Homo sapiens: one gene and its partner. The protein of the gene in region 2 interacts with the protein of the main gene of each other region in a pairwise test. Each region holds a gene or a part of one and is shown on either strand. Other genes may lie near its edges.

What was found.
Region 1: the proteins of RAB26 (region 2) and GCH1 interact in a two-hybrid assay, tested with the Homo sapiens proteins (one study listed by BioGRID and IntAct).

The regions. Positions count from the first base shown.
Region 1 is NC_000014.9:54,864,817-54,872,112, forward strand, and holds part of GCH1 (GTP cyclohydrolase 1), read right to left. Parts: intron 621-7,296; coding exon 511-620; intron 1-510. UniProt on the Homo sapiens protein: Positively regulates nitric oxide synthesis in umbilical vein endothelial cells (HUVECs). May be involved in dopamine synthesis. May modify pain sensitivity and persistence.
Region 2 is NC_000016.10:2,151,477-2,154,813, forward strand, and holds the end of RAB26 (ras-related protein Rab-26), read left to right. Parts: intron 1-92; coding exon 93-134; intron 135-218; coding exon 219-285; intron 286-379; coding exon 380-432; intron 433-1,343; coding exon 1,344-1,409; intron 1,410-1,512; coding exon 1,513-1,569; intron 1,570-1,669; coding exon 1,670-1,746; intron 1,747-1,842; coding exon 1,843-1,945; 3' UTR 1,946-2,689; downstream 2,690-3,337. UniProt on the Homo sapiens protein: The small GTPases Rab are key regulators of intracellular membrane trafficking, from the formation of transport vesicles to their fusion with membranes.

The DNA of each region.
Region 1 (7,296 bases), on a different chromosome or scaffold from region 2:
GCATTAGATTCACTTTTCCTAATATAGAAAGGAATGGAAACAAATCCACAAATACCATAACCTCTGTCACAAGAAATTCTGCAATTATTGTTGCTCATGACATGCCATACATACATATCTATCTTGGATCAAACATTATTCAAGTTAAAATAAAGGGCATCTCTAGATTGGGATGCTAATAATAAATAAATAAAGGTTAAAGGTTTTCAGAGCCTGTAGTAGCTACAAAAAAAAAAAAAGAGAGAGAGAGATGCTACTTAAACCTCATTATTTTAACCTATGAACCTGGTATTTAACATGAAAGGCTTATCCTGAGAGCCTTCTGCTACTTTGGTTTTGTTTTTTAAGTTTCAAGTTATTAGTCAGGTTAATAAAGAATAACCATATATGTATAATTGTAAATACCTGAGATATCAGCAATTGGCAGCTAAAAATTTTAAATATAATTATTCTAATTGAAAAACTTTCACTATGTTTTAAATTGCTGGGAAACAACAAAGAGAACCTTACCTTTCCAACAAATGGAACCAAGTGATGCTCACACATGGAAAACATGTCTATGTCCTTCACAATCACCATCTCATCATGATCTTCATCAAATATAGCATCGTTTAGGACATCTGAAATCAGAGGCTTGCTTTAGTAACATGTCCAATTTTATAGAAAGGTAGAATTATGGATAAACATGAATAGACAGTCAACATAAACGAACGTTAATCCTCCCTAAAATATTAAGGGAATACAAATTAAAACTAGATATTTTTCCTTATCAAAGTAGCAAAGTCCTTTTCTGTAAGTAACATTTAAAAATCCTTGATACAGTGTTACATGAAAAATGCAGGATTATGAACATATTTGCAGTATGGAAGAGGAAGGAGAACGGAGGGAGGAAAGGAAAAATTATACCAAAATAAAACAGTGGCTATTTCTGGCAGTAGAAATGGGCCACTTTCACTTTCTTCCTTACATTTTCTTCTACTTTATATTTTGTCTATAATCAATATGTAGAAAACCATATCTGAGAAAAAGACTAATCCTTAGCCCTCTGACTTCTGAGGCCAGATCCAGACACCTGTAAACCTGACCTCTATTATCAATTCCCCAAGTAATTTTCTACATTTGTAAAGTGTTCTATATATTGTAGGCTAGCATCAGACTTATTCTAAACAGTTGCCTTCCTAAGGAAATAAATCCTACAGTTTGTGTGTATATGCCTCTCTGGGAAGGCTTTGGAAGATAAGCAGTGTCTTGTTTAAGCTGTGGACCCTGGCACTTCCAGCCAGACATACAATAGACATTAAAAAAAAAAAAAGCTTTATTTTTAAAAATTGCACTGACTTATCCTCAACTATGCTATGTGCAAAAGAAAAGATTAATCAGATGATGCCTGAGAGCACTCTGAGCTTCCTAACATTCGGTGACTGCAAGAACATCCTGTCCTGGATGCTGAAGAGGGATAGAGGGAAACAAGCCACATTCCCCACCAATCATAATATAGCCAAGCTATTGATAATAGGCAGGTACCCAAACAACATTGTAGATAAATGCCATATGACATGGAAACTTCTTCAGCTATATTGTCAAATGAGAAAAGAAGCTACAAAGAAATACAGTAGGATTTCATTTTCGGAAAATAAATATAGACATAGAAAAAAACTGTACTGATACCTAGACAGCTTGGCAGACTAGATATAATAAGACACGTAGCTGAGTAATTTCAAGGATTTGGGGGATATGCAATATACATAATAGAATTAGACAGAGAAGGGAAGGGATGTATTAGAGCTTTGCACCTGCAGCTCTTTCCCCTCAGAAAGGCAGGCGGCTGAGTGAGTCACAGGAAGATGGACAAATGTCCACCCACACTGCCTGACCTTCAGTGGCTCCACTGCTACTAGAATAGGGGGCTCACAGAGACCAAGTCATCACGTAAACCACAGTTATTACCCCAAGTCAGGCTATTCAGAGATACATTTGACTGTGTCATAGAAAAGTCATTAGTGTGGTCAAGAAAGGCGAACATGGCAGGGTTAGACACATACAGACAAACAGAGACACCCCTGGTAGAAGTGGCTGATAACATCCCAGGAGAAAAAGGCGCAGTGTCACTCACTGAGTATTTCTTCTACCACAGCACTTTTCTATGCTGAATATTCTGCCCTACCTTCAGTCTTATTTCTGAAAAGAAGACCAAAAATAGATCCTTAATGTTTCCAAAAGTTTCTTGGATTTCTCCCCAAGATTTTAATATGGTATGATTGCCACATATAGCTTACTAAAATCTTTAGTCACACAAGATATATTCCTGGAAGGAAAAACAAACCAAAAAAATGTCTTAAAGAAAAAACAAGAGAGAAGCATTAAATATAGGAAGCATTTGTTTTCTCTGGCAAAGAATGAGAGCGTCCCCATCCTAAGCTCTGACGACAACCATATGGCCCATGTTAAAGTCAGCCCTTCAACTCAGGCGAAGTGAAGAGCTGGCTCCAGGCTGGGTGCAGTGGCTCATGCCTGTAATCCCAGCACTCTGGGAGGCAGAGGTAGGTGGATCACCTGAGGTCAGGTGTTTGAGACCAGCCTGGCCAACATGGTCAAACCCTGTCTCTACTGAAAATACAAAAATAAGCCAGGCGTGGTGGTGCATGCCTGTAGTCCCAGCTACTCGGGGGGCTGAGACAGGAGAATTGCTTGAACCCGGGATGTGGAGGCTGCAGTGAGCCGAGATCATGTCACTGTACTCTAGCCTGGGCAAGAGAGAACAAGACTCCGTCTCAAAAAAAAAAAAAAAAAAAAAAAAAGATCTGGCTCCATCACTTACTAGTTATTAGGCCTTGGGCAAGGTACTCTGTACCTCAGTCTTCTCGGCTATAAAATGAGCATAAAGTGCCTGCTTCACAGGGTGTCATGAGGATTAAATGGGCACATGTGTTTAGAACTATGCAGGCGGAGCAAGTGCTAGTTATTGTTATTACTATTATTATTACAATTAAGATTGAGGGAGCTGCAAAGCTATGTATCTCCCATGCATATTGAGGTACATCAAAATTTAAAAAGCAATAATTTGCCTTAACAGAGTACAGAAAAGGAAAAATAGTAACTTGGTGGAGAAACCTGGCAGAGGCTACCTTAACCAAATGATTAAGGTTAACTTTGCCAGTAACAGGACATACTGACATCAGGTAGCTCCTGATAGGACACCATGAGAAGGGCACATCACCTCTGCGGTATTCTTCCCAAAAATCCATAACTGCAGCCTAATCATCAGACAAATCTAGGGACACAAAATATCTAAACAAGTACTCTTAGAAAGCATCAGGCCAGGCACAGTGGCTCACACCTGTAATCCCAGCACTTTGGTAGGGCAAGGTGGGAGGATCACTTGAGCCCAGCATTCTGAGACCAGCCTAGGTAACACTGCAATATCCCATCTCCACAAAAAATAAGAAAAAAATTAGCCAGGCACGGCAGCACACTCCTATAGTCATAGCTATTCAGGAGGCTAAGGCAGGAGGATCACTTAAGCCCAGCAGTTCAATGCTACAATGAGCTATGATTGCACCACTCCACTCCAAATAGAGTGACAGGGCAAGATCCTGTCTCTATTTTTTAAGTGTTTAAAAATTAAAAAAAAAAATTAAGGCATCAAAGTCATGAAAGACACAGAAAGACTAAGGAATTGTCAGATTGTAGGAGACTAGAGAAATGACAATGAAAATCTGAATAAAGTCTGTAGTTTAAATAATAGTATTGTACCAATATTACTTTTTAAAATAAAGTATATTTTTATTATTTTTTCTTTTTTTGAGACAGAGTCTTGCTCTGTCGCCCAGGCTGGAGTGCAGTGGCATGATCTCGGCTCACTGCAAGCTCTGCCTCCCAGGTTCACACCATTCTCCTGCCTCAGCCTCCTAAGTAGCTGGGACTACAGGCGTCTGCCACCACCCCAGCTAATTTTTTGTATTTTTAGTAGAGATGGGGTTTCACCATGCCAGCCAGGATGGTCTCGATCTCCTGACCTCGTGATCCACCCGCCTCAGCCTCCCAAAGTGCTGGGATTATGGGCGTGAGCCACCGTACCTGGCCTTATTATTATTATTATTATTTTAGAGATGGGATCTTGATATATTGCTCAAGCTAGTCTTAAACTCCACGGCTCAAGCCATCCTCCCACCTTGGTCTCCCAAGTAGCTGGGACTACAGGCATGCACCACCACCTGGCTCCAATATTAATTTCTTTTTTGAGATGAAGTCTCACTCTGTCACCCAGGCTGGAGTGCAATGGCGTGGTCTCGGCTCACTGCAACCTTCGCCTCCCGGGTTCAAGCGATTCTCCTGCCTCAGCCTCCCGAGTAGCTGGGACTACAGGCACGTGCCACCAAACTCAGCTAATTTTTTTGTATTTTTAGTAGAGACGGGGTTTCACTATGTTGGCCAGGCTGGTCTCGAACTCCTGACCTCGTGATCTGCCAGCCTTGGCCCCCCAAAGTGCTGAGATTACAGGCGTGAGCCACCATGCCCAGCCAGTATTAATTTCTTAAATGTTGATAATTGTACCATGGCCATGTGAGATGTTAAACATCAGGAGAAACTGGGGAAAGGGTATATGAAAACTCTCTCTACTATCTTTATAATTATTCTGTAAGTCAGTCTAAAATTGTTTCAAAATAAAAACTTTCTTTTTGAAACGAAGTTTTGCCCTTGTTGCCCAGGCTGGAGTGCAATGGCACAATCTCAGCTCACTGCAACCTCTGCCTCCCAGGTTCAAGTAATTCTCCTGCCTCAGCCTCCTGAGTAGCTGGGATTATAGACACATACCACCACGCCCAGCTAATTTTGTATTTTTAGTAGGGATCGGGTTTCTCCATGTTGGTCAGACTGGTCTGGAACTCCCGACCTCAGGTGACCCACCTGCCTCAGCCTCCCAAAGTGCTGGGATTACAGGCGTGAGCCACCGTGCCTGGCCCAATAAAAAGTTTTCTAAAAAGCAAAAGGACAATGTCCCTCAACTGGAACATATAAACAATGGAGTACACTCAGCAAGAAGATGGAATGAATTACTGATACATGTAATAACATGGTTTGAGTCTCCAAAGTACACTACAATGTGAAAGAAGACATCCATACACAGAAGAGACTACCTATGTTCTAGAAAAGGCAAAACTATAGTGATAGAAGGCAGACAGGTGGTTTACCAGGGCCAGAGAGGTAGGAGAGAGAACTTCACTGCAAAAGGAAAGAAAGAAACTTTTTTGGGTGATGGAAATAGTTCCTATCTTCACTGTATGGGTGGCTATATAACTGCATACGTTTGTTAAAATTCACATTGTACATGTAAAGTAGGTAAATTTTACATAAGATAAGTGACACCTTAATAAAGCTAACTTCAAACATAATTTTTAGGCTGGGTGCGGTGGCTCACATCTGTAATTCTAGCACTTTGGGAGGCGAAGGTGAGAACATTGCTAGAGGCCAAGAGTTCAAGACCAGACTGCCCAACCTAGCCAGACTCTGTTTTTACCAAAAAAAAAAAAAAAAAAAAAAAAAGGGTGGGGGTGGAGCCAAGATGGCCGAATAGGGACAGCTCCAGTCTACAGCTCCCAGTGTGAGCAACGCATAAGACGGGTGATTTCTGCATTTCTAACTGAGGTATCGGGTTCATCTCACTGGGGAGTGTCGGACAGTGGGTGCAGGACAGGGGGTGCAGCGCACCCAGTGAGCCAAAGCAGGGCGAGGCGTCACCTCACCCGGGAAGCACAAGGGGTCAGGGAATTCCCTTTCCTAGTCAAAGAAAGCGGTGACAGATGGCACCTGGAAAATCAGGTCACTCCCACCCTAATACTGCACTTTTCCAACGATCTTAGCAAACGGCACACCAGGAGATAATATCCTGCGCTTGGCTCGGAGGGTCCTACTCCCACAGATCCTCGCTCATTGCTAGCACAGCAGTCTGAGATCAAACTGCAAGGCGGCAGCGAGGCTGGGGGAGGGGCACCCGCCATTGCCGAGGCTTGAGTAGGTAAACAAAGCGGCTGGGAAGCTTGAACTGGGTGGAGCCCACCGCAGCTCAAGGAGCCCTGCCTGCCTCCGTAGACTCCACCTCTGGGGGCACGGCATAGCCGAACAAAAGGCAGCAGAAACTTCTGCAGACTTAAAAGTCCCTGTCTGACAGCTTGGAAGACAGCAGTGGTTCTCCCAGCATGCAGCCTGAGATCTGAGAATGGACAGACTGCCTCCTAAAGTGGGTCCCTGACCCCCGAGTAGCCTAACTGGGAGGCACCCCCAAGGAGGGGCAGACTGACACCTCACACAGCCGGGTACTCCTCTGAGACAAAACTTCCAGAGGAACGATCAGGCAGCAACATTTGCTGTTCACCAATATCCACTGTTCTGCAGCCTCCGCTGCTAATACCCAGGCAAACAGGGTCTGGAGTGGACCTCCAGCAAACTCCAACAGACCGGCAGCTGAGGGTCCTGACTGTTAGAAGGAAAACTAACAAACAAAAAAGACATCCACACCAAAATCCCATCTGTACATCACCATCATCAAAGACCAAAGGTAGATAAAACCACAAAGACAGGGAAAAAACAGAGCAGAAAAACTGGAAACTCTAAACATCAGAGTGCATCTCCTCCTCCAAAGGAACGCAGCTCCTCACCAGCAACGGAACAAAGCCAGACGGAGAATGACTTTGACGAATTGAGAGAAAAAGGCTTCAGACGAACAAACTACTCCAAGCTAAAGGAGGAATTTCGAACCCATGGCAAAGAAGTTAAAAACCTTTAAAAAAATTAGACGAATGGCTAACTAGAATAACCAATGCAGAGAAGTCCTTAAAGGACCTGATGGAGCTGAAAACCATGGCACGAGAACTACGTGATGAATGCACAAGCCTCAGTAGCTGATTCGATCAACTGGAAGAAAGGGTATCAGTGATGGAAGATCAAATGAATGAAATGAAGCAAGAAGAGAAGTTTAGAGAAAAAAGAATAAAAAGAAATGAACAAAGCCTCCAAGAAATATGGGACTATGTGAAAGGACCAAATCTATATCTGATTGGTGTACCTGAAAGTGACAGGGAGAATGGAACCAAGTTGGAAAACACTCTGCAGGATATCATCCAGGAGAACTTCCCCAATCTAGCAAGGCAGGCCAACATTCAGATTCAGGAAATACAGAGAATGCCACAAAGATACTCCTCGAGAAGAGCAACTCCAAGACACATAATTGTCAGATTCACCAAAGTTGAAATGAAGGAAAAAATGTTAAGGGCAGCCAGAGAGAAAGGTCAGGTTACC
Region 2 (3,337 bases):
GGAGGTCTCAGGGGACAGGAAGGCAGTGAAGCTAGTGGGACCAGAGGCTGGGCTGGGCCCATGCCAGAGCTGCCTGGTTCTGTCTGTTTCAGAACAAAGTTCTGGACGTGGATGGTGTGAAGGTGAAGCTGCAGGTAAGGTGACTGGCAGAGGACAAGTTGGGGGACAGGGGACACCAGGGAAGGGCTGGACAGCCTGACCAGTGCCTGTCGCTGCAGATGTGGGACACAGCTGGTCAGGAGCGGTTCCGCAGTGTTACCCATGCCTACTACCGGGATGCTCATGGTGAGCCCCTGGGTACCTGGGCTGGTTGGGGCGGGGGTCTGAGCACCTGAGGGTGCAGGTGATGGTGGATGTCCTCACTGCCCTCTGTCCCCAGCTCTGCTGCTGCTCTACGATGTCACCAACAAGGCCTCCTTTGACAACATCCAGGTCAGTGGCTTTCCTGGTGGGGTGAAAGGGCCCTGATAGGGCCTGACCCATCCCAACCTCCTTCTGGTAGATGGCATCAGGGTTCCAAAGGACCCCGCTGAGAGAGGGGAGGGGGAAATGACAGCCTTCTGGGCTGGAGGTGGCCCAAGTGGACCTGAGTGCCATTCCAGCTCCCTCAGCAGGAGGCTTTGTGTAAGGGACCTGTAAGGTGGGCTTCTGTATGTGGTACACGGGGGGTTATCACTTCTAAAGACAGGTATCCTGGCCAGGCATGGCGGCTCACCTGAGGTCAGGAGTTCGAGACCAGCCTGGCCAACATGAGGAAACCCCATCTCTACTAAAAATACAAAAATTAGCCGGGCGTTTTGGCACACACCTGTAATCCCAGCTACTCAGGAGACTGAGGTTGCAGTGAGCCAAGACTGTGCTACGGCACTCCAGCCTGGACAACAGAGCAAAACTGTCTCAAAAAAATAAAATGGGCTGGGCATGGTGGCTCACACCTGTAATCCCACCACCTTGGGAGGCTGAGGTGGGCGGATCACGAGGTCAGGAGTTGGAGACCAGCCTGATCAACATGGTGAAACCCCGTCTCTACTAAAGATACAAAAAATTAGCTGGGCGTGGTGGTGCGTAACTGTAATCCCAGTCACTTGGGAGGCTGAACCCTCCCAAGGTTCTCTGAACCCCAGGAGAATAGCTTGAACCCAGGAGATGGAGACTGCAGTGAGTCGAGATGGAGCCATTGCACTCCAGCCTGGGAAACAGGGCGAGACTCTTGTCTCAAAAAAAAAAAAAAAAAAAAAAAGATAAAGACAGGTGCCCTCTACAGTGTGACCTGGAGGGCCAAAGTTCTGGGGCATGGGGCAAGCCATGCAGGGAGCCCCAGCCTGGTCTGCTGCCTCCCACAGGCCTGGCTGACCGAGATCCACGAGTACGCCCAGCACGACGTGGCGCTCATGCTGCTGGGGAACAAGGTGGGAGGCCCGGCTGTCCTCACCTGGGCCACAGGGCAGGGCAGGTGAGGGGGCAGGGGCCAACCATGGGCCAGCTTTCACCAAGACCCTGTGCCTGGGCCAGGTGGACTCTGCCCATGAGCGTGTGGTGAAGAGGGAGGACGGGGAGAAGCTGGCCAAGGTGAGTCAGGGCAGGGGGGTGGTGAGGGGGTGCCCCTGGAGGCTGCGAGCCTAGGCTGTCCCCGCCAGGCCACCACCTGGCTGGCAGCAGCTGTTTACAGGAGTATGGACTGCCCTTCATGGAGACCAGCGCCAAGACGGGCCTCAACGTGGACTTGGCCTTCACAGCCATAGCAAAGTAAGTCCTGCCAGTCACCAGGACTCCCCCAGCCCAGGGCCTGAATCCTCATTAGAGTCCAGGCCATCGTGTCCCCTTGTCACCCCCACTCCGCAGGGAGTTGAAGCAGCGCTCCATGAAGGCTCCCAGCGAGCCGCGCTTCCGGCTGCATGATTACGTTAAGAGGGAGGGTCGAGGGGCCTCCTGCTGCCGCCCTTGAACCTGGCTGAGCTCAGTCCTCTGGAGGAAGCCGTCCAGTCCCTAGAAGGCTGGACAGAGGGTCTCCAGGCCCTTCTGACTTTGTTGCCCAGTGGCCAACGCCCGAGTGTCTGTTTTCAGGAGCCCCAGGTCAAGCCTTGTCCCTTCCTCCTCCCAGCAACAGTCCCAACAAGCAGGCTTCTGAGAGCCCGTGGCCGCACACTGGCCGCCACGGAAAAGCAGTCTTCTGCACGGGACGGGGAGCGGCAAGTGGACAGACTTTGCCACGGTGCTCTGCTGCCCCCTCCTGGGCACGTCCAGGTGAGGGAGGGCTGGGGCTGGCACCACGCACAGTGCCTAACCCTAGAAAAGCCATGTCTTCAGCCGCACATGCTCAGGCAGCTAAGGGAGGACGCCTGCCCACGCCTGGGACAGAAGGCTTCACTGCTAATCACATCGTGCATCTGTGTGTCCTGGGAGCTGCCTGCTCCCGGCCCACCCTCTAGGAGGCTCTGGCTCAAACAGCAATAGGGTCTTCCTCACTGACCTTGGAGGATGCCTGTGGCCTTGTGATAAAATGTGGGAAATCACAGAAAACACCAGAAACAACAACTGCCAGCCCGGCCTGGCCACAGGTGAGGTCTGTGATTTCCGAGCACGCTCCACCTTGCACTCAACTTGGCCTTTTGATTGCACAAGCCTTTGTTTTCAGTCCTAGTGAATAAAGTTGTGTTTTCTGGAGCGTCTGTCTCATCTGTTGAAAAAAATCCACTTCTAGAGCAGGATGCTGGAGTTTGAGAGACTCAGCAAGGCCCAGAACCCTCAGCAGGTGTGTGGCTACCATTCCTCCATGGCCCATGGCTGCCTCCCTAAGGAGGCACATGGGAACCCTAGGTGGTGTCAACTTCCCTCCACAAATCTCAAAAGCCTTTTTGGACTCACCCTGGGGCAAAAGGCATGAAAAACAGTATTTGACTGGGCGTGGTGGCTCACACCTGTGATCCCAGCACTTTGGGAGGCTGAGGTGGGCAGATCACCTGAGGTCAGGAGTTTGAGACCAGCCTAACACGGAGAAACCCCGTCTCTACTAAAAATACAAAATTAGCCGGGCGTGGTGGTGGGCGCCTGTAATTCCAGCCATTTGGGAGGCTCAGGCAGGAAAATCGCTTGAGGTGGAGGTTGTGCCATCGCACTCCCGCCTGGGAAACGAGCAAAACTCCGTCTCAAAAAAAAAAAAAAAAAATCACGGGCAGAAATGGAGAAGGCAATCCCAAGAGATGAAAAGTCACTGGTAACGAGCTTCCGTTTTCATGTCTGTACCCTTTTCCAAGATTGCCTGTGGATCAGCCAGACCTCTGGGGTGCCAGAATAGGAAAATAAAGACACTTGAGAGAAAACCGAATCAACTCACTAC